Regions from separate parts of the Homo sapiens genome. Here all the other regions are reported to be linked to region 6. The links are microRNA targets in miRTarBase. Many come from high-throughput screens and were not tested one by one. Region 6 holds a microRNA gene; each other region holds the end of a gene's coding sequence.

Region 1 (4,066 bases), not on the chromosome of region 6:
TGGCGATCTCGTGTCCCGGAGGAAACACATGAGGATTCACATCGTCAAGAAACCCGTGGAATGTCGGCAGTGCGGGAAGACCTTCCGAAACCAGTCCATCCTTAAGACTCACATGAACTCTCACACTGGAGAGAAACCATACGGGTGCGATCTCTGCGGGAAAGCTTTCAGCGCGAGTTCAAACCTCACCGCACACAGGAAGATACACACGCAAGAGAGACGCTACGAATGCGCCGCCTGCGGGAAAGTCTTCGGTGACTATTTATCCCGGCGGAGGCACATGAGCGTTCACCTTGTAAAGAAACGAGTTGAGTGTAGGCAGTGTGGCAAGGCCTTCAGGAACCAGTCAACGCTGAAGACGCACATGCGAAGCCACACGGGGGAGAAACCGTACGAATGCGATCACTGTGGGAAGGCCTTCAGCATAGGCTCCAACCTGAATGTGCACAGGCGGATCCACACCGGGGAGAAGCCCTACGAATGCCTTGTCTGCGGGAAAGCCTTCAGCGACCACTCATCCCTCAGGAGCCACGTGAAAACTCACCGGGGAGAGAAGCTCTTTGTGTCATCCGTGTGGAAAAGGCTCCAGTGAGCGCGCCTGCTTTAGAGACACAGGATGATTCAGACCGGAAACAGACCTCGTGGGTGTAAGAGGAAGCCTCTGTGAGCTCGCACCTTACTGGGTGCAAAAGAATCCACGGAACTTGGGAGAAGTCCAGTTCCTGTAAAAACTGGGAAGACGAGGCGTTCTCATCCCATAGGAGGTTTGTGAGAACTCACGCCGGGGGTGAAAATGTACGTCTGTAGCATGGAGAAGCCTTCAGGGTACATTCAGCTCTTAACAAACACAGGAGGACTTAATGGCAGCTTGGCATTTAATGTCAAAATCCAAGCCGTGGCATTTAATGTCAAAATGACTTCAGACCACTTCTAGCCTTCTGGGCCCATGAGTAATAATGAGCACACTAGGGAGCATCTCTGTAAACACAGTGGCTGGGGAAACCCTTCCTAGTCTCACTTGATTCCTCATGACGGAAATCACACTAAAGAGAGAAATCAGTGAAGTAAGGAACGTGGAAGGTCATGAATGGGCCGCAAACCACGGCCAGCTGCTTGTCTTTGTATGGCTTGCCAGCTAACAATAGTGGTTCCATCTTTAAGGAAGAAGAATGTTTGATGGAGAAAATTTGTGGCCAATGAAGTCTGAAATACTTCCTGTCATCTGCCCCTTTCCAGAAAAACTTGGCCGACCCTTGGTCTACAGCACGGGTTCTCAGTCGGGCGACGATTTGGCTGTCTAGGCGTCATTTGGCAATGTCTAGAGACATTTTTGGTAGTTAGAATGGGGGGAAGATACTCCTGACTTGTAATAAGAAGACATCAGAGATGCTGCTAAGTCGGCTCCAGCACACAGGAGCCCCCCACAACGAAGAGTTAGTGCCCCCAAACGTCACTGTTGCTGAGGTTGAAAATAATCATGCAGTCATTCCTCAATTACTGCCTGCAGCAATTCCTCCATTTTTATGAATCTTGTGAGCACTTACGCTAGGAGAAATTTCTTTTACAAAACTTTTAAAATACAATTAGTGCTGATAATTCCTATGTGGAAATGATTCCAGCCATGGTCCCCTCACTTGAGCATGTGAATATTCTCACGGAGAGAAGCCCCAGCGAGATTTTCCGGTGAATACGGGATTGCACTTACTCTTTCATCACGGAAACAGACCCCCCGAGAGAAGCCCCAACGAGATTTTCCGGTGAATACGGGACTGCACGTACTCTCTCATCATGAAAACAGAGCCCCGTTCATAAATTTTTCATCTTTATTTTTAAGGTTATACTCCTCTAAATAACCCTTAAGCCTCATCAAGAAAGGTTTGTTTATAGTATTTTTACTATAGCTTCATCCTTGATAACGTCCTAATTTCCTTCTGGACAACCTCCTTGACCAATGGCATATTGAGATCTATGTGACATGAGGATATTTCTCAGTACCACTTTGTTACTGGTACCTGATGCACACGGATTGCGACCAGAGCATGATGCCTCCATCAAGTGGTAATATGTTTGCAGCCTGCTGTCCAGCCAAGAGTGACAGATACTTCTAGTGACTTCCCCGGTATCCACTCTCATCTTCTTCCAATATCAAGAGAATCCAGGTTCTGTCAGATTAGTAAGGTGTGCTAATCTAAATTTTAAAAAATCTCTTACAGGTTTTCTTGCAGCTGGTACCATCCATGTCTCACAGCCCTGGCCACTGACAGATCAGCAGATGTCACCACATGGGCTTCTGAGAAAGCTCTTGAATGGGGATCGTTCTTAAACATGAATTCCTCCCTGTATGTTTTGTTCTTTGCTTTACTTTTCACCTTGCAAAGAGATCCAGTACCTAGTATTGGAAGATCCACCTTAACGACCGTGCATATGAAAACCACAGTCTAAGGAAGTGACTGCAGAAAGCTCACAGCGACCCTGGCCTCCCCTGTGGCCTCTTTGAGTGTCTGCAGCAGCCCTGGACTTCCAGACTTCTATCACATGAGAAAAAATAAAACTGATTATTGGTTTAAGCTGCTATGGATATTTCATTGTTTTTCTTTTAAATTTATTTATTTTAAGATGGGGGTCTCCCTATGTTGCCTAGGCTAGATTCGAACTCCTGGGCTCAAACAATCTTCCTGCCTCAGTCTCCCAAGTAGCTGAGAATACAGGCATGTGCCACCACACCCAGCTTGTTTTTCTATTTCATTTGTTTATTGGTGGGAGGGGGTTTCTACACCCAGCTGGATGCTGCCTGGAGCCCATACACCTGGTCATTGGTCAGTTGTGTGGTTTTTTTTTGTTTTTTTTTTTTTGTTTGTTTGTTTTTTGAGACAGAGTCTTGCTCTGTCACCCAGGCTGGAGTGCAATGGCGCGATCTCGGCTCACTGCAAGCTCTGCCTCCCAAGTTCATGCCATTCTCCTGCCTCAGCCTCCTGAGTAGCTGGGACTACAGGTGCCCGCCACCACACCCGGCTAATATTTTTTTGTATTTTTAGTAGAGATGGGGTTTCACCGTGTGAGACAGGATGGTCTTGATGGCCTGACCTCATGATCCGCCCACCTTGGCCTCCCAAAGTGCTGGGATTACAGGCGTGAGCCACCGCGCCCGGCCATGTTCAGATGACTGATTAGCCTATCAAAGGCATTCTTCCGTTTCTTTATGGTGGCTTTGATTTCTGATCTTTCCTTCTGATTCTTTGAGTCTCTATTTTTCTGCTGATGATGTAGGGCAGATGAGCCCCCAAACTGGGGGTTAGCCCAGGAGGGTTCTTGGCTTTGCTCAGGAAAGAATTCAAGAGGCAGCCAGCAGTAAAAGAAATTGGGTTTATTGAAGCAGCAGGGCACAGCAGAGTGGCTGCCCCTTGTGGAGCAGGGCTGACTCATAGGCAGTATACCCAGGGTAGCAGCATATAGGCTGTTGGCTAGCAGTATTTATACCCAGTTTTAATTACATGCAAATTAAGGGGTGGGCTATTCAGACAGCACTCCTCATTCACCTTCCACCATGATTGTGAGGCCTCCCCAGCCATGTGGAACTATGAGTCCATTAAACCTCTTTATGAATTAGGCAGTCTCAGGTATGTCTTTATTAGCAGTGTGAGACACAGTTGCTCCGGCCTATAAATGACACATAGTTTTAAGTCTGTTTCCTGCAGTTCTCCTATGATTGGCCAGGGTTTTGATTCTGTTTTGTTTTTTTGCATTTTCAAATTAAGGGTAGATGATTCTGAGGGTCTTGCTCCAGCTCTGTCTCAGGCCCCCCCACCAGCTATCCCTCTTTCTTGCAGTTTACCTAACAGAGCCTTGGGGTGGGCATGTGTGGGACCGTGGTGCTAAGATTTAATGCTTTTTCTCATTTTACTCATAGTTATGTTGCAATTTTGGCATTCTCTATGTCTTAAAGGCAGTGTTGAAGGTATAGTTTTGTGTAGAAGATTCATAGGTGTGGAGTTACTTCACAGCATTTGAAAGGGGATTTGGGGAGGTTGCTTACCACTCACTGGCCATTGTTTTTAGTTACCTGGAA
Region 2 (4,066 bases), not on the chromosome of region 6:
GCTTGGCTGGTCCAAAAGGCCTGCCCAGCTTTCAGCCTCTCGTGGCCTTCAACATGACTTTCTCGCTAAGTTTAATCATTTCTGGCTTTTGATTTAAAGAAGAGTGAGAGATGGGGACTATTCCTTTTAGTTGAACACTTAGATGCAATTGTAGGGTTAATAATTGGCCTAATTTCAATCTTGTTTTGTCTCAGGGAACAGGGAGGCCTGAGGAGAGAGAAGAGAAATAGGGAAAGGCTGTTTGGTGGGCATTCAGGACATTTATTGATGAAAAGTTTACCATCTTTAATGGGCATAGTTCATGACACAAATGCTTAATTTGTAAAAAATACAATGTAACAAGGGTATACCTGTATTGGGAAATGAGTCGGAGCTTTAAGGCAGGGAAAATTTGCTTTTATTCTTCATTGAAGTAACTTATCATCTGTGGGTGTCTCTTTACAGATGTGAAGGAATGGACAAGAGTTGAGCAGCCTTTCTGCTGATTATCACACATCATGAGCTGAGTGACTGCAGCTTGCCAAATCTTTGTGTTTCTGGGTCTGACCAATTAGCTTAGTTCTTCTCCTGCCTAATTTTGAACTAGTAAAGCAAAGTGAGTCATCAGATTATGAGTTACTGTTTAAAAGAAAAATGCTGTTTATTCATGCTGAGGTGATTCAGTTCCCTCCTTCTTACAGAAGTATTTTAATTCACCCCACACTAGAAATGCAGCATCTTTGTGGACGTCTTTTTCACAAGCCTCCAAGGCTCCTTAGATTGGGTCGTTACTAAAAGTACATTAAAACACTCTTGTTTATCGAAGTATATTGATGTATTCTAAAGCTAGTAAACTTCCCTAACGTTTAATTGCCCTACAGATGCTTCTCTTGCTGTGGGTTTTCTTTTGTTAGTGGTCTGAAATAATTATTTTCCTGTTCTATTAATACATAGTGTATTTTGCACAAAAAAATTAACCTGGTCAATAGTGATTACCAAAATATATATTAATAATCTTGGCAATTTTTGACATTAATTATGAAACATTTTAGCCCACGTTAGTTCTACATTATTCTTCACTTAAACTCAGCTACTGCAAATTTTGTCTTTCTGTAAATGTTATTAAAATATCCAGTGAGCTCTTTAGAAGGACTCAGTATTATTTCAAGACTATTTTTGAGGTAATTCTAGCCTTTTAAAATATTCTACAGACCTACGGGGCTTAAAAGAACCCCAGTACCGACTAAGCAAATAGGCAAAAGACATGTTGGAAATGTAGTATAGTACTTGAAACAGTCACTATCATAGGGATAATTGGTGCATCCTGTGTAAATGGAAGCTGAGCTTGACACCTGGTGCTTTTAAGTAGGGATAAAGTCATCCTCTCACTGCAAGCACAGCATACCTGTACCTCCAAAAGTGACGTTTTAGTGAACAGGCCGTTTTCAACACTTGTGCCTTGGGGTGTTCATTGAAGCTTTGTGAAAACTACTGATGTTTTCTCAGTCTCCTTAAAGTTACGTCCATGCTTTAAAATGTCTGTGTAGGAGAGAAGTGGGGTTTATAATGTTTTCTCTAAGATATCTTTGCTGCTTTCCAGACTTTGAAACTATTAAGCTTCTTAACTGCCTCTTACCGGAAATACTTCTGGGGAAACTTCATGGTCCCAAAATGTCATTGCCATACAGCTTCACTAGAGTTCTTTGAACCACAGCTGAAAAGAGCTTTGTATTATTTTTTAATTCCCTCCCCAGATATCATTTAGGAGTATTATATAAAGGTGGTGGGCAAAAACAATGTAAGGAGCCTTTCCAGTTATCTTGAGTTGCAGCTCTGTAGTTTCTTGAGGCCAAACACACTGTATTTTACAAGTCAAAATATAATTTACATTAATCACTATGTTAATGAGTATGTAAAACATTCTTTTGCATTGATGAATTTTGTATCTGCTTCCATTAAAAGCATAACAGCCATAGTTGTTGCGTGTTATTTTTAAAACTATTTGTCACAAAGTGTGGTGTGGTACCACATAACGTGGTAACTTTTGGTTAGTAATCCAGCTGAGAAACAGCTTGAACATAAAAATAACATCAGTGTATTTTATGAAAAATTAGCAAACAATAGGTATATTAACCTCCATTTTCAGTCTTTTATAAAAACTATTCACATCTATTAAAAAAAAACCTATGGGACTTCAGCCAAGATTCAGTGCCTTTCTACTGGATTCCTCTTACTAGATGCATCCGAAGAGGCCCTAGTTTACTTTCTCCAATCATATAGCCACCAGGTATTTAATACAGTAATATTTATGTGTATAACCTGTAGTGCAATTATACATGATTAACTTCATATGGTGGATGAGAAAACAAACTCAGAAATTAAACAATTTGGCCTCATGTCCTTTAGTTTTCCCAAGGCTTCCTTGAAAAACATCTAGCTCTTGGCCAGGCACGGTCGCTCACGCCTGTAATCCCAGCACTCTGGGAGGCTAAGGCAGGTGGATCACCTGAGGTCAGGAGTTCGAGACCACCCTGACCAACATAGTAAACCCCGCCTCTACTAAAAATACAAAAATTAGCTGGGCATGGTGGCAAGTGCCTGTAATCCCAGCTACTTGGGAGACTGAGGCAGAATTACTTGAACCCGGGAGGTGTTCAAGTAATCTCAGCAGTGCGCTGAGATTGTACCACCGCACTCCAGCCTGGGGAACAGAGACCCTGTCTCAAAAAAAAAAAAAAAAAAAACCTAGCTCTTAATTATTCCTAGTAAGGTGTGAGTTAATATGTATGGAATGAAGCAGGATTGTTGGAAAGATTGTTCTAGCATACTAGTCTAACGGCTGACCTGAAATACCTTGAGGTGGTTTAGTACCAGCTCTATTGGTGAATGCCACCAGTAGCTCATTTCTTTTTTTGAAATGGAGTCTCACTCTGTCACCTGGGCTGGAGTGCAGTGGCATGATCTGGGCTCACTGCAACCTCCGCCTCCTGGGTTCAAGCGATTCTCCAGCCTCAACCTCCTGAGTAGCTGGGGTTACAGGTGCACACCCACCACACCCAGCTGATTTTTGTATTTTTAGTAGAGACAAGGTTTCACCATATTGGCCAGGCTGATTTTCAAACTCCTGACCTCAGGTGATCCACCTGCCTTGGCCTCCCAAAGTACAGGGATTACAGGCGTGAGCCACCACACCCGGCCACCAAGTAGCTCATTTTAACACAAACACGAAGATGTTGTTTTGCCCACTGGGACAAAAAATGCCAAGGGTACCTTTCACTTTATACCCAGGTAGATACTTTTAAATTGAGACAACCACTATGTTTGTGTGTTGGAGTTATAACTTTGGTTCTGTTTTTACCCTTTATTTGGAATACAGTGCAACATTACAGTTTTGGATCATTAAATGAATGGACTTGGTGATATAGTACTAACAAGCACGACCTGAATTCTGGGAGTAAGTGGTTTTCTAGTTCATGGGGGAGGAAAACAGATACGTGCAAGATCTCCAGAGGAGAACAGAACCATGGTACTCAGTGAGTCACCAAAGGGCTTTGGCTTCAACTCACTAATGGCTGGAACAAGTGCCAGTCTTGGTCAGCCATCCAGGATTTTCATCACAGCAAATCAAAATCTCCAATTTTTCAAACTAATTGTAGGTAGAAGAGAGAGAATAACTCCAAACTGTCTTATAAAAGGATCTAGATGACTACTGAAGTGTCCTCCATTCATGAGTTGGCAAAATCTTCAGAGTGACTGTTGGAGCAAGGAGCCTTTCATGTGCTCCCAGTTATTATATAGTGCATAGAGGCTGGTAAGTGTTAGTCCTGTCAGACCACCTCGTGCTATCCCTCGAAGACCACCTGGGAAACAGAGACAAAAGGAAAATGAAATAGCTGTATATTGCATAGTGCCCTAGCACGATAGGGTTAAATAAAAAGTACTGTGAAATGGGCTGGGCACGGTGGCTCAGGTAATCCCAGCACTTCGGGAGGCCGAGGTGGGTGGATCGCTTGAGGATAGGAGTTCAACCAGCCTGGCCAACATAGTGAAACCCTATTAAAAATTCAAAAAAATTGGCTGGGTGTGG
Region 3 (4,066 bases), not on the chromosome of region 6:
CTAACAGTAGTAAGAACTAGAAATTCTAAATGGGTTGTAAGTATTGCATGAAGGAAAAGGAAGATAATGATAGCTGGCGTTTCTCAGTTTCAGGGAGATATAAAGGATGCCTTGAGGATTTGGAACCTGGGAAAGGAGAGTGAGTGGATTTTTGGGGGTGGGGGTGTGTATGTGTGAATATTTTCAGATTGATATATATTCACTGTTGATGCCAATAATAAACCAGATTTTTTTCCTTTTCAGGAACATCTAGTCTTCACAGTATGTTTATCATATCAGTACTCAGGATTGGAAGATACTGTAGAGGACAAGCAGGAAGTGAATGTTGGGAAACCTCTCATTGCTAAATTAGACATGCATCGAGGTTTGGGAAGGAAGACTTGCTTTCAAACTTGTCTTATGTCTAATGGTCCTTACCAGAGTTCTGCAGCCACCTCAGGAGGAGCAGGGCATTATCACTCATTGCAAGACCCATTCCATGGTGTTTACCATTCACATCCTGGTAATCCAAGTAATGTTACACCAGCAGATAGCTGTCATTGCAGCCGGACTCCAGATGCATTTATTTCAAGTTTCGCTCACCATGCTTCATGTCATTTTAGTAGAAGTAATGTGCCAGTAGAGACAACTGATGAAATACCATTTAGTTTCTCTGACAGGCTCAGAATTTCTGAAAAATGACCTCCTTGTTTTTGAAAGTTAGCATAATTTTAGATGCCTGTGAAATAGTACTGCACTTACATAAAGTGAGACATTGTGAAAAGGCAAATTTGTATATGTAGAGAAAGAATAGTAGTAACTGTTTCATAGCAAACTTCAGGACTTTGAGATGTTGAAATTACATTATTTAATTACAGACTTCCTCTTTCTAAGATTTTGTGAATTGGTTGAATAGTTCTATACAAATGAAGTATGGAGGTGTGTATGTTTATATGTATATAACAAAATATTTTCATTGTGACCACTCTGAAGTAAGAGCAATGGGAATGGCATTATTGTAGAATAAGTCATTGTATTTTTAACACCAGAAAGAACCTTGCCGATCACCAGGCATAACCTAATTTTATCCATGGAAGAAACACAGAAAGGCATCTAAGTTAGAGCTGGCACCAGAACTGAGACCTCCAGAAATCTATTCCAGTATTTTTTCCACTACACAACTGCCTTCCTGACAGGTTCTGAGATAAGTGTTATGTTTGTAGATAGAGTGAAATATATTTATATATATATAAATATATACAGATACATATCTGTGTATTATCTCAAGGAATGTACAAACTTTAGTTTTTGATTATAAGGACTTCACTGCAAGTTTTAGTTAAGAGGTTTGTATATAAATCTGTTATAGAACAGGCTGAAATTTCTTGTTCATAAGATTATGAAACCACATGAGAAGTGATAAAATGTTTGTTAAAGCTAGATAGAGGTTAAGAATCAAGATATAATGGATAATTTTCATAGCTGCCTATCAGAATTTCCCAAATATTTAGCATCTTCCTTGATAATATGTATTTTCTTCTTGAATTTCACTGGCCTAATGAGATAATACTCTTATCTTTGGCTCTACCTAAAAGTTGGTTAAAAATGCAATTGGCATTAACAAGGAAAAATACTGAATTAGTAATTTTAAAAGTCTCACAAAGAAAATCCCAGGCCTAGATGGCTGCATTGTTGAATTCTGCCAAACATTAAAATTAGCACTAATTTTTTGCACACTGTTTCTAAAAGTAGGAGAGGAAAGAACACTTCCCAACTTACTCTAGGTCAGTATTACCCTGATACTAGACTAGACATCACAAGAAAACTATAAGCCAATATTCCTTATTAATACAAACACAAAAATCATTAACAAAAATATTAGCAAACTGAATCCAGCAACCTATAAAAAGGATTCTATATCATGACCAAGTGGAATTTATCCCAGGAATTCAAGGTTGGTTCAACATCTAAAAATCAAATAAGCTAATATACAGTCAGTTCTCATTATTCACAGTAATTATGTTCTACAGAATATTCTCCCATAAACACTGAATTAAATATGGAACAACTGCTTTTAGGAGAAAGTGTATTTGTGTATATGTGTGTATACATATGTTTATCTCACACACATTATGAGCTTGAATTCTTAATTCATCCTAGCAAATTCTACCTTATTTTACAGAAGTGAAAGTGAGGTATCAGAAGTGTTAAGTGACATGCCTGAGGCACCCCCCTAACAGGTGTCAGAGCTGAAATTCAAACCCCATCCAGCTGGCCCCGGAGCCAGAGCTTCTTGTACTACACAGAATTGCCCCTGCCATTTCCACCCTCCAGTCATTTCTCTATGAGACTGAAGCAGGAAGGCAGAGCATCATCTTGTTCAGCCTCAGCTGGGAACATGTGTACTGGGTGACTCAAATTTTTCACCCATTTACACATATCCACAAATGACTGCAAAAGTGCCACGGATATCAATTTGAGGGTTATAAATTTTAGCAAGTTGGTAAATTCACAAATACATAACCTTGAATAATGAGGATCAACTGTACCATATTTAATAAAGCACAAAACCCACACAGATTGTCTTATTACAGCATTTGATAAAATCCAAAACTCTTTCATAAAAACACTCAACAAACTTAGGAATAAAAGGAATCTTCCTAGATATGATAAATATAACATCTATGAAAAGCCCACACCTAACATTATACTTCATGGTGATAGACTGAAGGCTGAATGTTTTCCCCTTAAGATTGGGAAGAAGGACAAGGATGTTCACTCGGCACTACTTCTATTCAGCATTGTACTTGAAGTTCTAGCCACAGCAGTTAGGTTAGGAATTCAAGGTTTGTTCAACATCTAAAAATCAAATAAGCTAATAAAGAAAAGAGGTTTATACTGCAAAAGAAGTGAAACTATATGTATTCACAGTTGATACATAGTTGTATATAGAAAATGCTAAAGAATCCATAAAAAGTAATAAATGAGTTCAACAGGTTGCAGGATACAAGATCAGTTTTATTTCTCTACTAACAGCAAACATTCTGAAAATGAGAATAAAGAAATCCTATATACAGTAGCATCAAGAATAAAACTCCAACACGTTTAAAGAAATTAAGATCCAGATAAATGGAAAGACATCCATGTTCATGGATTGGAAGACTGAATATTGGTAAGATGGCAATGCTGCCCAAATTAGTCTACATATTCAACAATTCCTATCAAAATCCTAGCTGTATTTTTTGCAGAAATTGACAAACTGGTAAAATTGGTAGGGAAACGCAGGGGACCCAGAATAGCCAAAAAACCTTGGAAAAGAACAAAGTTGGAAGACGTACCAATTTCAAAAAGTGCTACCAAGCTACAATAAGACAGTGTAGGCATATGGATAGACATATCGATCAGAGGAATGGAACTGAACATCCAGAAATAAACCCATACATTTCTGGTCAACTTGTTTTCAACAAGGATGCCAATACCATCAATAGAGAAGGAGTGGTCTTTTCAACAAACGGTGCTGGGACAACTAACTGGTAGCTACGTGCACAGCAAAAGGATCCCTACCTTCCTACCACATTACAAATTCTAACTCAAAATGGATCATAGACCTCAATATAAGAGTTTAAACTCTTAGAAGAAAACAGAAGTAAATCTTTGTGATGTTGGGCTTAGGAATGGTTTCTTAGACATAATACCAAAAGCACAAGCAACAAAGGCAAACAGTAGATAAATGGGACTTCATCAAAATTAACTTTAGCGCCTTAAAGGACACCATTAAGAAAGTGAAGTTAACCCTCAGAATGGGAGAAAAATTTTTGAAAAATCATGTATCTGATAAAAAAACAAACAAACATGCAGGTGCTCAGCTGTGGTTACCACCGAGCAGCACTGTCCAGTGAACTTGCTGTGATGATGGGATGCTTGGTATCCGCACTCCCAGTGTGATAGCCTTTAGCCTCATGGGGTTGTTGAGCAGTTGAAATAATAGCTAGTGTGAGGAACTGAACATAAAATTTTAGTTTTAGGATGGGTGTGGTGGCTCACGCCTATAATCTCAGCACTTTGGGAGGCCAATGAAGGCGGATCA
Region 4 (4,066 bases), not on the chromosome of region 6:
AAAACCCCATCGTCTCAGCCCAAAATCTCCTTAAGCTGATAAGCAACTTCAGCAAAGTCTCAGGATACAAAATCAATGTACAAAAATCACAAGCATTCTTATACACCAACAACAGACAAACAGAGAGCCAAATCATGAGTGAACTCCCATTCACAATTGCTTCAAAGAGAATAAAATACCTAGGAATCCAACTTACAAGGGATGTGAAGGACCTCTTCAAGGAGAACTACAAGCTACTGCTCAAGGAAATAAAAGAGGATACAAACAAATGGAAGAACATTCCATGCTCTTGGGTAGGAAGAATCAATATTGTGAAAATGGCCATACTGCCCAAGGTAATTTACAGATTCAATGCCATCCCCATCAAGCTACCAATGACTTTCTTCACAGAATTGGAAAAAACTACTTAAGTTCATATGGAACCAAAAAAGAGCCCACATCGCCAAGGCAATCCTAAGCTATGTGTTCTTAAAGAGGGGAGTGGTAGCTTTGTAACTTACAGTGAGGCTTACACCTTGACAACTGCAAGAATGAGGATAGTGGTGAGTGAAGGGAGATTTGTTAATTATGGCATTTCCCTCTATTATCGTCTAAACAGATTATATTCCCACTAAAGTATGTGTGTTGGTCCTGCCAGTATTAGAAACCAGAGGCTTGTTGGCATTGTGTCACACAGTACACACCAATGGATTCTCAGATTTTCTAGGGTAAAGGTGAAGGATGGGGCAGCACTTAGGTTATGGTGGTTTGAAAGAAACTGAATTGCTTTCTAAACCAGATGAGGATCAGAGTGCGAACCATGGTGAAATATGCATGGAAACTACAGAAAGACTGAAGTGTTTCTTACGGTGTTTTCTGCAAAACGTGATTCATTAGGACATTAACAGGTATTACGTTTTCAACATATACAGCATTATGATACAGTAAGTTTGGACCAAACAGGTATTCATTCCCCAGAGCCTTTCACATGCACGAGAATCAGTCATTTTAACAAGAATTCCGTTTCTGCTGGGCCACTTGGATCCCTTGGATTCAGATGTAAAAACACACTGAAATATTCCTCCTTTCACCTGCTTTTCAGTTTGAGGTAATCAGATTGAAAAGCAGGAGTTCATGCATTTTTTGGTTCTATTTTTCCTCCTCTAGTAAATGAAGAAAATAAGCTATATGTATAAGTTTACATTATTCTTGAACCGCTTTTTAAACTAGGGTTTTTCATATTTGTTTTTATTGATGACAATTAAAGCAATTTAAGAGACGAAGTTAGCTCAAAACTCTTGCGAATAGATTTTAGCATTTTTGTATGAGGGAATATGGAAAGGCCAACAAGCAGCACTGTTCCTCCCCACAAAAATGCCTTGGGAATATAATAGGCGTACACTTCATTTGTGTAACTTTTCCTAATGTATTTTTTTTTAATTTGCTTTATAACGGTTTCATGTTTACCTCAATTGGTACTTAGTCTTAAAATCTTTCTTTATACTTGGTTATTGATGGATCTTCTGCAGCTCTTATGTAGCCAATGAGACAGATGAGGGCTGTCAGCTTTTAAGTGACATCTTAAGCTAATAAGAAATTGGAATCCTCAAGTCATTTCATGAGGCTGTTACCCTTTAAGACAAATAATACTTTCCTCAAATAGTTCAGAAAATTTTTAAAAGGATCACTTAGAGCATAAGTGTAAAATTCTTGCTTCTAGTATATAATAGTGATGTTACCATGTCAAGTATTTTGGTGAAATATCCCCTAAAAATGTGTAGACTACGGCACAGATTGAGTATGCAAGCCTTAGCTTGAATGAGACTGCTGAGAAGTAAATGACAGGGATCTGAATACTTAGCAGGCTTAACTTTTTGCAGGGAAGGAAAGGCTATGTATGCAAAAGAATAGGTTGTAACTACTGAAGAGCTACTTTATGCTCAGAAACCTTTTATTCCACTTTGTATCCAAGATTTCATTAAAACATTGTTCCTTAGAGCATACTTTAAAAACTATTTGGTAAGGAATCCACTGTTGAACTTCAGGTCTTAATAGCACTGGCTTTGGTGCTAAACTGAGTTGAATTCCAAGCCTGTTGGCCATTCCCAGCATTGCCACTGCTGTGTTAGTTTTCTCATCTGTAAATAACTGCCTACATCTCACAGGGCCTCTAATAGTTAAATAGATTGTAAGCTGCACAAGCATAGGGACAGTCTGTCTTTTGTAAACCTCCCATGCACACAATAGGAAATCAAATATTCTTGAACAAATGAAGTCACTAAGTGCTCATTAAATTTCATTTTAAATATATGCCTCTGTTAATTCATGGATCTTGGAACTTACTTAAAAGACAATGCTTTGACGGACATTTCCACATTCCTCATAGGGATTTACTTTTTAATACAAACAGGTTCAGTTAACATTGCCATACACATCTCATTACTTTTGGGAGTGCTTTTCCAGAAATCTCTGGTAGTCACGTCACTTCATGATGGGGCTACGTTCTGAGAAATGTGTCTTTGGGTGATTTCATCACTGTATGAACATCACAGAGTATACTTACACAGACCCTGATGATATGTATATAGCCTGTTACACACTTAGGCTATACAGATAGCCTAGCCTATTACTCTTCAGCTATAGCACTGTACAGAATGTTACTGTAATCATACTGTAGGCAACTGTAACACAATGGTAAAACATTTGTATATTTAGACATAGAAAAGGTACAGTAAAAATATGGTATAATCTTATGAGACCACCCTTTATACAATGTCATTGACCAAAATGTTACGTGGTGCCATGACTATACTTGTTAAGAAGGAAAATTCCAGTCCTTTTGACCTATGGTAGGCTCAACAATCTGTAATTTTAGAAAATCCTACAAGGGATTCTGATGTGGATGGTATGAGTACCACATTTTGAGATGTCTAGAAGAAAAATCTTCAAACTCCTTGGCCTTTTTCTTCCATGGAACCATCTTCTGACTAAGCTGGTTAGTCTTCTGAACTAGAAAACCTGGGTCTGGGATAGAATCCAAAATTTGCATGTGGACAGAAAAAAACACTGCAGCAAACCTGCTGTACCAAAGGTTACTTATTATACTTCAGTGCTTACCATTGTTTTTTTTACTCCTTTGGTTTAAGGTTTGTAAAGACATCTAGCTGTTAGGTTGAAGTGAGCTCTTCAAATAGACCATTATATATATAAGTGTTAAAAAAGCACATGGTCTAGTCCCTAAAACAGTCATATTTTATTCTTCTGAACAGCTACTTACAAAGTAATCTCAATCAGTGAAATTATAAATCATGTAACTGTTCATGATTAAAAGGCAAGACACAGCCAAGACAGTAGATGGGCAAGTCTCACATAAATACAAGAATGTTTATAGAATGTTTAGCATATCATGTTAATGGACAATAGTTTTCCGTTCTCTACAGAAGTATGAATGAAATGCCAAAGTTGAAGTCACTGGTTATATTCATAACCAGCTTAGTGAGGATGTTGCCCACTGCCTCACATCTGTAGGACAGTTGGGATATTTCTGCAGAGCATTCATAATTTGAGTATTATCCAAAAGCAGTTTCATCAGCTGGTACTCTCTCTGTGAATTTCCTGAAGTTCTTTCCATGGGCTTTATTAATTCTAATTGCTGCAAGTGTTCAAAAGCCTGAAAGATGAAAGAAATAGTTTAGGTTGAATAGGAGAGGAGAGTGACAACTCTCCTGTTCTCTCCCAGAGAACAGTTAGCATTTTGGTCAGCTGCAGAACAGAGTACTGGGAAGCAAAATGTAACAACAATCAATAGGATTAAAAAAACTCTCACAACCCCATGAAAACTCATATTATCAGGTAAAACAGTGTCAGTGCACACTTACTTGTCCATATATTGTTGAATGTAAACACGGCAAACTTTAATTCAATATATACAATATGGTTTTCTTCCTAGCCTCATTCTCTATCATAGCTCCTCCTAGTACTTTAATAAATAGTTTCCAGTTCTCTGTAAAAACCTAAGAATCAGATAAGACTTTCTGATCAATTCCCTAGGCTACTCAGATTTGCATTTATATTTTGTCTGTCTCTA
Region 5 (4,066 bases), not on the chromosome of region 6:
AAGTGCTGGGATTATAGGCATGAGCCACCACGCCAGGCCCCTAACTCATTTTAAATGGCTGTGTAATGTGGATGATGACAGCACCTACCTCAAGGGGCTGCTGTGAGGACTAAATGGGTATGTTCTCAGTTAACATTAGTGTGATTGTCTTTGTGAGGTCCCACTTCTATCACTTTCTATCCCGCCCCAAGCAGAGCCTGTTATACAGGAGATGCTCAGATGCTTATTGTGTAAACCCCTGTGGGCTACATGGAAAATCCCTCCTGACTTCGCTAGAAGGTGCTATCTTCTCTCTTTTTAGGATTGCCAAAGGTATGGTGCCAAGGCCATAGTACCCTGGCCCCACTGATCTGCAGGAGTGGCCCTGAGCATGGGTGGTCCTTTGCTCCTGGCCTTGCTGCTCCAGTAAAAACATTCACTAGTGGGCTGGGTGTAGTGGCTCATGCCTGTAATCCCAGCACTTTGGGAGGCCAAGGCAGGAAGATAGCTTGAACTCAGGAGTTTGAGACCAGTCTGGGCAACATGGCAAGACCCTGTCTCTACAAAAAAAAATACAAAAATTAGGGGAGCATGGTGGCACACACTGGTCCCAGCTACTCGGGGAGCTGAAGCAGAATAATTGAGCCCAGGAGTGGAGGCCGCAGTGAGCAGAGATCATGCCACTGTACTCCAGTCTGGGCGATAGAGCGAGACTGTCTCAAAACAAAAAACAAACATTCACTAGTGATCAATTCCTTCTATGTTCCCCATGGATTGGAAGCTCCTGGAAGCTAGAGCACGTGAATCACTTGCATACCACTGTATGCCCAGGTGCCAAGCGTGGGGCTTGGCACACCTGAGGTCCAGAGGAAGAGCTGCGGAGTTCAGACTGGCAATGTATGAGGCCTCTTCTAGCCACAGGTGCCCTGTGCATGTTGCCCACAGCTATGGAGCCTCCACTCTACCCCTGAGCTACTTATCACTGACACTACTGCCACTTCTGACACCACAAATGTGGACCCCCTTAATCAATCCAAACCTCATTTCCTGTCCTTCACCCTTGAGATTAGACTCCACACTTGTTTCTGCCCCAAGTTGTCTCTTCATAACCCTTAGGGCTCCCGTGAAGCTGGAGTTCACCCTGCCATATTCCACAGCCCTACATTCCCATGTCTGCTTTGGAGGGGTCCGGAGGTCTCAGAATGGGGGGGTTGGGACATTTATATCAGTACTCTACCACAACCCTGGGATCTATCTGTGGTGGGGAATGATTCAGCCTGTACTGAGGGAGAGGAGAGCGGAAAACTGGCAGGATTTTCTACTTCATTCCACAGGGATCACTTACAGGTGCCCTCTCCCCCAACAGCCAGAAAGGGAAAACAGAGCCGAGTTTGGCCACTGGGGCCTCCACAGCCCTCTGGAAGAAGGGGCTGACTGATAGGAAGGCACTCCTCTGGTGTTCACTGGCCAGACCCCTGTGGGCTCAGAAGACTACCTAGACCCCATGAAGAAAGACTCTAGACACATTTTTATAATCAGAAACTTACAGTTTATTGTGAATAAACCACTCAACTTTGAGCAGATGACATTGCCTCAATTAACTTTTTCGTTGAAGAAAAACAAAGATATATGGTAAATTCATGAAAATACTGTGTCCTTTCTCTTCCACCCTTTGTAGGGCAGAAAAATTCTGCCTGACCTTTCCCATCTTCCTGATGATGTTAACAAACGACAGCCACTGAGGGCACAGGAGGGGGCTCTACACAGGCCAAGAGCTACAGGCTACAGTCTGAGCACAGAAAACCCTCCAGCTCCAGCATCCAGGGCCACAGCTGGACACAAGTACAGAACCTGGCAGCCCTGCAGCCCAGACAATGCCCAGGGTGTGATTTAGGGTGCAGAGCTGCAACTCAGATCCTGTGCCATGGCAGTATCACAGGAAGGACTTGACGGAGAGGTGAAGGCTCCAGACGCCAGGATATTTATTCCCTGTGCCAATACAGCATTCACACCTGACCTCCAGGTCCTGCAGCAGGTACTCTCCTCATTCACAGTTAGCTCCCCACTGTTCCATTCTGGGTTCATTTGCTATACTCCTAATCTGTTCTCCCAATCCACCCCACAGTCTCTCCCTTGCTGGGGACAACACAGGAAGAGACAAAACCTGAGGAAGGAAAAAGGGAACCTGCAACCAGCCATGGACCTCATGATCCCATGAGTCACAGCTATCCTCTGTCTTTAAGAATGACTGTTTTATAGCTTACATGGTACCTGGGAAATTGCTGACTTGCAGCTGAAATGTATGAATACCAAAGAATTTCTATCACAATATTCACAGATCTCTGTATCAGCTCTACTTGGAGGTCAAGCAGGCTTGGGAGAGTATAGACTGCTCTGCCTGCCCTAGAGTGGAAGCATTGAACAAAGCCACAAAAACCCCAGAGATCACAGATCTAACTTTTCAATGGCCCACAGGACCAGGTTCAGGACAGGTAGGACACCAGGCAAACCACTTGTTCCCTTGCGCTTCATTGTGCAAAAGCTGGTCTGTTCCTCTGGCCAGACCCTCCTTAGTACAGGATCTCGGACCACAAACCAAGGAGTCTCGTGGCCTTGGATTCCCAGACCCTAGGATGGTATCCCTCTGACAGCTGGAACCAGGCAAGGGGGAACACACCTCAGCCTCAGAGCAGCCTCTGGACACTCTCCAGGTAACATGAAAATAACTTGTGCAAACACAGCCCCCATGCCAGAAAGTCCAGTGCCCTAGGAAGGGCTATCCTGAATTCTGACCCTGATGTTTGCCAAAGGAGAATGCAGCAAGACAGTGTCAGGTTTGGCCAAATGTGACCCTGCTCAGAGCTATACCACTTGAATACTGGCACAAAAGAAAGGACCAAGGTAAAGCAAATTTATTTGGGAGGAACAATTCCCTTCAAAAGTAGATCCCTATCTTTAGGAGACAAAAGGCAACACTGTGATGAACCCACACCCCCTAGTTTGGGGGGCCACAGGCCCAACCCCATTCTGCTGTGGGCTCTAGCCTCAGTAGCCAGATCCAGGTAAACCTCAGTTTCAAGAATAAAGGTGAGCCACAGACATGCAGCACCACCAGAGACAACAACACCCCGTGGCAAGAAGACCATGTTCTGGACTGTCTCCGTACTGCCACGGTAAGGCAGGAGGCATGCTGTGACCCCTTGTGCTCCATGCCCATTGCACAGGCCAGTTCAATTCCCTACCATCTGCCACCCATGCTCTTCTTTGGGACTACAACTCTGGCCAAACGTGAATATGGAAAGCAGAGGCCCAGGGCCCTCTTGCAGTACAGACATTTTGAGGTGGGTAGGCAGCATATGTTACATTCTAAGTAAAACAGCTAGAGGGTAAAACACTCCAATGCCAATTTATTTTCAAAAAGGGCTCTGTGTTATCCTATAGTTTGCCTTTTTTTTTTTTTTGTATAATTGTACAACCTTTGAAAGTTACATAAGTTGTAATGATCTAATACTATTAATAGCCATTCAGAAAACACTTTCCCTCCCTCCCAACAACCATCCAGGGGGAAATAAAAGTCCTGAAAAGAGGCCAGTTCAACATGGCCTCTACCCTGGTAGAAACAAAAAGTGAAAAGAGAAGAAAACAGAAATCAACTAAGAGGTGTTGCCAGTGTCTCTCAGGAGTGGGGCCCTGGCTGTTGCCTGGGGTCATGAAAGGCAGAGCCTGCAGCATGCAGTATGGCAGCCGGGAGACCTTGCAGCCACATCTTCCTCACCCCGGCACATCCACATCCCAACTTAGGTGTCATGGAAATCTTTCAGCAGGGTTCTCCTCCGCTGCTCCGCTATATGCATCTGGTTCTCCAAGTCCTGCATCAGAGAAACAAGGTGTGTGCTTGCATGGCCCAGGCCTGGGAGCAAGGAGTAGCCAAAGCCACAAACACCCTCCAGGACCTCCAAGGAGTCAAAAACACTGCCCTTCCCATTCTTAGCAGCAGCTACCAGTGCACAAGCCAACAACGCTGTCACCTATTACCATGCCAGTCCTCTACCTGCAATATAGAATCCAAGAGGACAGTAGGCACTTA
Region 6 (4,059 bases):
GGGAGGCGGAGCTTGCAGTGAGCCGAGATCGCGCCACTGTACTCCAGCCTGGGCGACAAAGCGAGACTCCGTCTCAAAAAAAAAAAAGAAAGAAACTAATAATGCAGAAAGAATCCTAAAGACTTCACTGAAAATCTGGGGACACATTGTAGGTCCATTCCACATTGTTATTACATTCTAAACCTTATAGTTAAAAACATGTAATTTCATAAATACTTAAACACTGTCTACTCCGAAAGACTCCAAAGACTCCAAAAATATTTCTTAAAAATTTTTAGTTATGGAAAAGCAGGCATAAGTAAATTTTTCTTAAAAGGAAAAAATTTAAGTAATTGTAATACTTTCCTTACCATTATAAAACTGTGCATTGTAAGTATTACTGTATTATAAGCTAATGGCAATAATATATTATGGTAAATAGTGGCTTGCTTCATAGCAGAAAGTACACATAAACACACACTAATTACAGATTCAGTTACACTCTGATGTTCATTGTATATGCAATAAGACAGCAGTTGCATGTTAGCCGATGCCATTCACATATTCAACCAGCTAACAATACACTGCCAGCTCATCACACACAGGTATCCAGAGCACTTCATTGACAAGAAGAATTTATCCAGAAGCAAGTGGCAGGGTAGTTGTGGCTGCTGACTTGACCCAAGCAGCCAGCTAACAATACACTGCCTACCTGATTCAGGTCACTGCCGATTCTCGTGGCCCAGGCAGTCACTGAGGCTAAATTTGTAACATGAAACATAGTGGCAGAACTCTAATCTTAATAGTCACATTAAAGAAAACTTATACACAAAATGTATTACTTCAAGACTATAAGAAATAAAATCAATATTTGCTTGAATCTAGTCAAAAACATAAAAGTTAAACAAAAACTTTAAAACTTTCAGAATACTTACATTTAGGTTTTCCAAATTAAATGCTTGGATAAAAATATGTTCTACAGTACAAATGAATTTTAAAAGTTACTTAACTGTAGGCTGGGCGCAGTGGCTTATGCCTGTAATGCCAGCACTTTGGGAGGCCAAGGTTGGCTGATCCCCTAAGGTCACAAGTTCAAGACCAGCCTGGCCAACATGGTGAAACCCCGTCTCTATTAAAAATACAAAAATTAGCCCAGCGTGGTGGTGCTGCCTGTAATCCCAGCTACTCAGGAGGCTGAGACATGAGAATCACTTGAACCCGGGAGCTGGAGTTTGCAGTGAGCCGAGATTGCACCACTGCACTCCAACCTGGGCAACAAAGTGAGACTCTGTCTCAAAAAAATAAATAAAAAGTTACTTAACTATAGCTTTTCAAATCACTTCTGTTTACTGATCCAAAGACTACTTGTCTGTATTAGACAGTAAAATATCTAGGAGTCGTGATAATACATAAGCTGTGCACGACACAAAACTGCAGCAGTGTTTGGGGGAAAAAATCAACATTAAAGTATTTAAGAAATGTAAGGGCTTAAATGCAATTAGTTTTCTCCTACTAGAAATGACATTAGTAATCGAGTTCTGAAAATGCAATTATGTATTCAATATAGGATGTTACCACTTGAATACTGAATTTTTTTTTTTAAGAGGCAGGGTCTGGCTCTGTCCTCCAGGCTGGAGTGCAGTTGTGCAATCATAGCTCACTGCAGCCTTGAACGCCTGGGCTCAAGCAATCCTCCTGCCTCAGGCTCCCAAGTAGCTGGGACTACAGGCACATGTCATCATGCCCAGCTAATTTTTGCAGTTTTTTTATAAAGACAAGGTCTCCCTGTGTTGTCCAGGCTGGTCTTGAAGTCTTGGCCTCAAGTGATCCTCCTGCCTCAGCATCCCAAAGTGCCGGGATTACAGGCATGAGCCACAGTGCCTAGTTGCAAAATTTATATAAGATCTAGAAAAATCTATTAAAATGGTGGTGGATTTGGAACTAGAATCTCTGCGTACAGGTCAAAGGAAGATGAACTATTGAGCCTAGAGAGAAGCATGGTAAATGGTGACAGAGATTTAAAGCAGATGAAGGCTCTTTATGAAACACGTTTATAAAACCATTTAAATTTGTTTCCTTTTACACTGATTACAGGAGACACTAAAGACCTTTGGGTTTGGTCTTTCAAGGAGAACAGGTACTACATTGGATCAACTTTAAATTGCTCACGTTAAGAACCATGGTTTATGCCACTTCTCCACATTGTCCACAAGATGGCACCATTTCCATTTCTTTGGGGGGCGTGCTTCTGAATGCAACAGAGAGGAGTGCAACTAGCAACTGTTAAAATCATTAACAGCCGCTAGCAATACACTGCCTACCTGACACATCCCAGCTTTATCCTTTGCTGTGGAGGCAGAAACTAGAAAGTACGATTCAGATGCAAACGATTGCATTATTTGTCTGGGATCTTCAGTTTCATAAAGAAATTTTTTTTAGTATGTAATAAGATACTAAAATTCTCATATTTTCAGACCAGCTCAAACTTCCTACAAATACATTATTTACCAAGAATTCGTTTGTTCAAGATCAGAATTAAAACAGAGAACAAGAACAAGCCCTGGACTCACGTTGGCGGAATCTTGACTTCTCTTCTGCTTCAAGTCTTTGGAGAGCACACGCATGATACTTTCCTTTGAAAACACAGATAACATATTGAGGGAGAAACTATTTAGGAAAATCATAATTTCAGGTGTGGAATTTTTCTAGATCTTGTGCTTGTCAGATTACACTTTTTTTTTTTTTTTTTTTTTTTTTTGGCAACTAGGCACCTTCAGAATATAACTAAATTACATCACTCAAATTTACGACCAGGGCTTAGAGTTTCGTACCACCTCTTGGTCCTAAACAGATATTATGAACGGGGCCTTCGGCCCCGCATTAGAGAGTTAGGGAGAATGCAGAAAAGGGTGTTACTCACCCACAGCATCTCCTCTTCCGTGCGGACCCTCCGAGGCGCGGTGCGCTCCAGTTTCCACTCCATCTCCGGCTGACTTCGCCCTGCCTGGCGTTTGGCCTCTCTGCTCGACTGCCTCTGGTTTTCTTCCCAGGTCTAAGTCAGTCTTGACGCCTAATCGTCAAACCCCTGGAGTCCCGTCCCCCAGGACCATTCTATTTCACCACCTCCCTCCAGGTCCCCCACTCCTCCCACCGCCGCTGCAAGGTGTTCCCCAGGGTACCATTTAAAAAGCCGGCGGGGCGGCAGTCGGCGCGGGAATCCCCCTCGCCGGCTTCTTATTGGCCGGCGCCGCGGTGTCGTCAGAGCCCGGGTGGGATTCCCCGGCGCGCGCCGCGGCCCCGCCCCTGCCGGCCCTCTCTGGGCCCCGCCCCGCCACCGCCTCCGGCCGAGGCGCGCACCCGGGCGCCAAGCTTTGCCGCGAGCCGTGGCGGGCCTGCGGCTGGGCCTGGCGCCGGGGGCTGCCACCGCGGCAGGAGGCGGAGGGGTTGGCGGGCGAAGAAGCGGGTTCTGGGAGTTCACGATCTTTCCATTTTCAGAAACAAGAATGTTTCCTTATAACGGCCCTGATCCCTGTTCCTCTGCACCCACTTCTCTTTCTCCAACCACACCCTGCCTTTGCAGGATCCGAGCGTGCACAGCTCTCCGGCCTCTGTCCGTTGGTAATCGCTGTGTCAGCTATAGATGTGAGGCGTGTTCGTCAGCTCTTCGTTTTCAGAAGGCAAGAAAACGTGGCAAGATTTCTATGCCGATCAAAAGGGAGAGCGTTGACATATTTATGCAATAAATTATTCCCTGCTCTATACATTGGGAGTAGTCAGGTCCTCTCACTCGGGCTTCTGAGCCCTGTTCCTTAGCAGGGGGTAGGTGAGAGAGGTGAAGAGGTAGTGAAAGAACCAGTGACAGGCAGGACCTCATAAGGCGTGAAGAGGGGGCCAGAAAGCTGAGCACACTGGGGACTCCGTGATAAAGGGGGAGAGGAAGATATTGAGGGTTGAGGAAGAGGTCTGGCGGGAAATGACAGGGAACCAGATGGGCTGTGCAGCCTTAGCTGCCCATCTGAGCTGCCAAGAGAGCCGAGTTGTGCCATATGGCAGGAGGGGACACTGCATCTGGGAAGCCTC
Region 7 (4,062 bases), not on the chromosome of region 6:
GGGCTGGGCATGGGAGCAGGAAGGGTCCAGGGCCCCCACACGCTGCTGAGACCTGCCCCCCCTCCCCAGGCCTACACGGATGAGCTGGTGGAGCTACACCGGAGGCTGATGGCGCTGCGGGAGCGCAACGTGCTGCAGCAGGTATCGCCCCCCTGAGGGTCCTGCCCGGCAGAGGTCGGGGTGCCTGTGAGGAGTGTGGGCTGCGGGGGCCCCTGGTGCTGCCCCAGGAGCCCCTACCTCTGTTAGGGAACAGGGCAACCCCACCCTTGGCCCCCTGCCCCTGAAGCCACCTGCCACCACCTTACAGATTGTGAATCTGATCGAGGAGACTGGCCACTTCAATGTCACCAACACCACCTTCGACTTCGACCTCTTCTCCCTGGACGAGACCACCGTGCGCAAACTGCAGAGCTGCCTGGAGGCCGTGGCCACATGACCCTGGGCCGCGTGCCGGGCCCCCACCGCCGGGGTCCTGGGAGGCTGCAGCCAGGCCTCGCCTGCCCTCCTCTCCCGTCTCGCCTGCCCGCAGCACTGCCTTAGCGACAGCCCTGTCCTCGCCCGCACAGCCCGCTGCACTTTCCTCGGCGGCTCCCTGCCCACTCTCCCCGCTCCATCGCCAGGAGCCCTGGGGCCGGGCTGGGCCACACGGGAGCCGCCCCCCGGGCTCTCTGGGCTCCCCTCAGAGAGCGGCTGGTGTTGAAGGCAGCTCTGGGCAGAGACAGGGCCGGGGGCCCCTCGCCCAGCCTTGGGACCAGCCCCCACTGCTCGGCGGGCTGTGCGGCGTCGCTGCCCCAGCCTTTCTGAGCAGCGGATCGACGGCTGGGGGGCATCTCCAGCCTCCCGAATGGTTCAGAACACACCCTCCGCCCACCCTGGACCTCAGAAGGCCCTGCCTGTGTGTCTGCGTCGTCCTCCGTGTAGACCTAGCGCCGGCTCCTCCCCGGCTCGCGCTGCGCTGGGGTCTGTGCTGTATAGTTCTCTCTATTATATATGTGTGTGCACTGTCTGGTCAAGAGCAGTGTCCATGTGCGTTTCTGTGGCAGCAGTGCACGTGGGGTGGGTGGGGGGTGCGTACGGTGGGGCTTGTAGGTTAAGATGTCTCTGCGGTGGTGTGGGGCTGGAGGCCGAGCCAGGCACGGCAGCTGGCCCTCTCCAGGCGCATGGAGGAATTCTCCCTTTGCCGTTCCAAGGATGCCGCCGCCTCCTACCGGGGCTCCCGGGGGGGTCAGCCAACACTACAAAGGGCAGCGAGTCCTCAGGGCGCCCGGGAGCCACCAGTCTGCTCTCGGGCTCTACTCAGACTAGCGCCAACAGTCTCCGCGGACAGACTCGCATCAGCCGCCCTGGGGCTCGGCCTCCTCCCATAGGCTCCTCTTCCTCTCTTTCATTCAAGTCTTCAAACTTTGAAAAAAATATGAGCTTTTGCCAAATAAGACGGGATAGTTTATGGAGTTTTCTGAGGCGCATTGAACTCTGGTCAGCCCCTCGAGCGTGGGCTCGGCCATCAGCAGGCCCGGTGGGTTGGCCGGGCTGGCCCTCCCAGGCTGCCTTTCTCTCTGGTCGCGGCCTGGCCCGCCCCGGCCTCCACCGCCGCAATTCATGCTGGTGCCGCGCCCGCAGCCCCACTCCTGGTATGCCTGAGATTCTCCAGGGGCCAAGCCGGTCCTCCTTCCCGGCCCACTCTTCCAGGGCCAGGACGCTCCCGCGGAGCCAGCCCATCGTGGCTGGGGGTCCCAGGGGCTGGAGGCCTGCCTGGTTAGCCTCTGTTTCCCAGACATTGACTCGAGGCGCCTCCAGTCCTCTCAACCCCCTGACTTTCAAGTCCTTTCAAGTCCTTGTGCCCTGACCAAGTTATGAGGAAAAGAGGGCTGAGGGCCTGGAGGTGGGCTCGCACCCCCTCGAACCCACCTAGATGTCTCCTCCTCCCCAGCCTATGAGTTCAGACTTGGGGGGCTCCATCTGTCCCTCCCTGAGGTCCCTCATCTTGTCCCTGCTCTGATTCTGTCAGCAGATCCTGAACACTCCTTGGTGGGGACCCATGCCTCCAAGGCTGCCCCCAATGCCAGCTGTCCTGGGGAAACTCCCCAGAACTCTCGGGGAAAGGCCCGAGAACCTTCGGAGGAAGCCTCCGGGACTCCTCGCCACCTGCTCTGTTTCTCTCCCGGCCCCACTGCCTTCAGGTATCAGGAAGAGGGCAGGCCCCTGTGCCCCCTCTCCCCTTCCCAGGGCGGCCAACAATACTCCACCATGGGGCGCTTCCTTTCTTCTCTGGAAACTAAGACATTGGACTGAAGGAACTGGCCTGAGGGGGGCTGACCGGGGGCCCGTGCTGCTGGGAGCTCTACGCACAAGAGGCCGCCGGGGTCACGGACAGGAACCTCAGCCCAGGGTGCTGGCCTTTCTCCTTCGCAGGAGTCCCCCAAAATCCACACAGCGACTCGAGCAGCCTTCCACTCAGCCAGAGGAGGGTCGGGCTCCCCCGCCTGCTCTCGGTGGTGGCGTCTGGCCCTTCCTGCCGTTTCCAAGGCCTCCGGAAGCACCAACCCAGTTCTCAGTTACCTCCTCTGGCCGGAAGGCCTCACGTTGTCCTCCAGAGCTGCTCTGGGCCCAGGGCTGGCTCCGTGACCACCTGATGGACGTGCTGGGCAGCATGGGCTCCCAAGGCAGCATCCCCAGCTGCTCTCCCACCCCACCCCAGCTGCCCGGCGGCTGGGCCCACGAGGGCTCTGGGGACACTTCCATAGGAAAGGGGCCTGGCACTTTGTGATTGCCACGTGTTTCCTGTTAAGCCGCCTGCCCCCAGTGCAAATCTCTGTGTTTTGCTCTCTCCTGAACAAAAATGTAAACCGACGCCGGAAAGCAAATGGTATCGAATACCTTTCTTGCCCATAAGGGTTTTTACAAAGAACGTGTCTCACTAGGAACTAGGACACTCATCGGCCCGAGACCAACTCCTGGATAAAAGGAATAAGGAGAATCGTGTTTGTAACGAGTTACAGGATTGTTTCTTTCCTGGATTTTAAACTTTTGTTAAATTGTGAAATTATGGAGGAGTTTTATAGAAAAAAAAAGTGAAATAAAGTCAGATGGGAAAGCAGACGCATGCATCTGCCTGGTTCCTCCTGTCCAGTCAGTGGGCAGGCTTGCGAGGTAGCCTGGGGCCCCCTGCCCCGACTACGTGTCCCAGTGCCCCCAGATCAGTGACCAAAACAGAGAAGGAGGGTTGGGACCAAGCCTGGTGGGGGTGGGGAGTGTGAGCAAGGCTGGAGACGATGCTACCAGCAATTCAAGAGGGCAGAGAATTCGGCTCACATCCTGCTTCTGATGCTGTGCTCTCTACTTGGAAGCAGACAGCAAGGTTTGGGTTGAGAAGAAAACTTGGTTTCATAAGGTGGATGCATGGATGATGGATGAACAGATGGGTGGGTGAGTGGATGGGTGGTTTGATGGATGAGTGGATGATTGGTTGGGTGGACCATGGATGAATAGATGGGTGGGTGGGTGGAAGAAAGGATGGAAGGATGGATGGATCGATGGGTGGATGGAAGGAAGGAAGGAAAGGAGGAAAGGAGGGAGGGAAGGACGGAAGGAGGGAAGGAAGGGCAGATGGGTGGATGGATGGAAAGGATGGATGGTAGGAAGGATGGATAGATGGGTGAGTGGATGGAAGAATGAATGGATGGGTGGATCAATGGATGGGTTAATGGGTGGATGGAAGGAAGGAAGGATGGATGCGTGGATGGATGGATGGATGGATGGATGGATGGATGGATGGATGGATGGTTGGATGGACGGAAATAAAAATGTAGGCAAAGACATTTTTTCCCAGGAGCCAGCGTGCCATCTCCCAGTTTCCCTCTGGTGGGTTTTTCTCTGGCCTCAGTGTGGCAGAGCTCAGTGAACCTCCAGGAGACAAAGCTGTCACTGGCCCCATTTGAGCAGATCTGTCCCCTCTGTGCTCCAGCTCCAGCTCCACCCAGAGGAGCAGGAGTTCCATTCCTGAGCAGCCCACATTACAGGATCACCGTGGCAGCCACTGATTGAGATCACTTTTGTCAGCAG

What was found. Region 6 holds the annotated microRNA hsa-miR-449c-5p (UAGGCAGUGUAUUGCUAGCGGCUGU, at 2,275-2,299, opposite strand). A microRNA usually pairs through its seed, bases 2 to 8, with sites in the 3' UTR of a target mRNA and lowers its output. Matches are read on the target gene's strand: a 7mer-m8 pairs with bases 2 to 8, a 7mer-A1 pairs with bases 2 to 7 and ends in A, and an 8mer does both.
Region 1: miRTarBase lists ZNF317 as a target of hsa-miR-449c-5p. Seed matches in the 3' UTR shown: 7mer-m8 at 1,497-1,503.
Region 2: the mRNA of NCOA4 is a reported target of hsa-miR-449c-5p. Seed matches in the 3' UTR shown: 7mer-A1 at 568-574 and 7mer-m8 at 1,604-1,610.
Region 3: miRTarBase lists MALT1 as a target of hsa-miR-449c-5p. Seed matches in the 3' UTR shown: 7mer-m8 at 1,160-1,166 and 7mer-A1 at 1,462-1,468.
Region 4: the mRNA of ORC4 is a reported target of hsa-miR-449c-5p. The part of its 3' UTR that is shown has no 7-base or 8-base seed match.
Region 5: the mRNA of ARIH2 is a reported target of hsa-miR-449c-5p. Seed matches in the 3' UTR shown: 7mer-A1 at 3,326-3,332.
Region 7: miRTarBase lists MLLT1 as a target of hsa-miR-449c-5p. Seed matches in the 3' UTR shown: 7mer-m8 at 531-537 and 7mer-m8 at 2,170-2,176.

What each region holds. Positions count from the first base shown.
Region 1 is chr19:9,160,842-9,164,907 of GRCh38, forward strand. It overlaps ZNF317 (zinc finger protein 317), which reads left to right. Exons shown (of 7, transcript NM_020933.5): 7 at 1-2,572. The coding sequence ends at 592. Among named protein-coding and RNA genes, the nearest start is that of OR7D2, 16 kb to the right of the region's middle.
Region 2 is chr10:46,002,976-46,007,041 of GRCh38, reverse strand. NCOA4 (nuclear receptor coactivator 4) reads left to right here. Exons shown (of 10, transcript NM_001145263.2): 10 at 445-1,954. The coding sequence ends at 450. It overlaps TIMM23 (translocase of inner mitochondrial membrane 23), which reads right to left. Exons shown (of 7, transcript NM_006327.4): 7 at 3,300-3,839. The coding sequence ends at 3,724. Among named protein-coding and RNA genes, the nearest start is that of SNORA74C-1, 20 kb to the right of the region's middle.
Region 3 is chr18:58,747,162-58,751,227 of GRCh38, forward strand. It overlaps MALT1 (MALT1 paracaspase), which reads left to right. Exons shown (of 17, transcript NM_006785.4): 17 at 244-4,066. The coding sequence ends at 681. The region is part of intron 1 of LOC105372146 (a long non-coding RNA gene); the gene reads right to left. Among named protein-coding and RNA genes, the nearest start is that of LINC01926, 65 kb to the right of the region's middle.
Region 4 is chr2:147,932,050-147,936,115 of GRCh38, forward strand. ORC4 (origin recognition complex subunit 4) reads right to left here. Exons shown (of 14, transcript NM_181741.4): 14 at 1-3,649. The coding sequence ends at 3,461. Among named protein-coding and RNA genes, the nearest start is that of ORC4, 87 kb to the right of the region's middle.
Region 5 is chr3:48,982,981-48,987,046 of GRCh38, reverse strand. ARIH2 (ariadne RBR E3 ubiquitin protein ligase 2) reads right to left here. Exons shown (of 16, transcript NM_006321.4): 16 at 665-3,848. The coding sequence ends at 3,777. It overlaps LOC124909376 (a long non-coding RNA gene), which reads left to right. Exons shown (of 2, transcript XR_007095903.1): 2 at 1,314-1,562. Among named protein-coding and RNA genes, the nearest start is that of P4HTM, 5.2 kb to the left of the region's middle.
Region 6 is chr5:55,170,039-55,174,097 of GRCh38, forward strand. It overlaps MIR449C (microRNA 449c), which reads right to left and starts at 2,315; the gene lies at 2,224-2,315. It overlaps CDC20B (cell division cycle 20B), which reads right to left and starts at 3,139. Exons shown (of 12, transcript NM_001170402.1): 1 at 2,900-3,139; 2 at 2,550-2,612. The coding sequence starts at 2,962. It overlaps MIR449A (microRNA 449a), which reads right to left and starts at 584; the gene lies at 494-584. It overlaps MIR449B (microRNA 449b), which reads right to left and starts at 704; the gene lies at 608-704. RefSeq lists silencers at 2,863-3,157, 3,245-3,574.
Region 7 is chr19:6,209,416-6,213,477 of GRCh38, reverse strand. MLLT1 (MLLT1 super elongation complex subunit) reads left to right here. Exons shown (of 12, transcript NM_005934.4): 11 at 70-141; 12 at 308-3,097. The coding sequence ends at 436. Among named protein-coding and RNA genes, the nearest start is that of MLLT1, 69 kb to the left of the region's middle.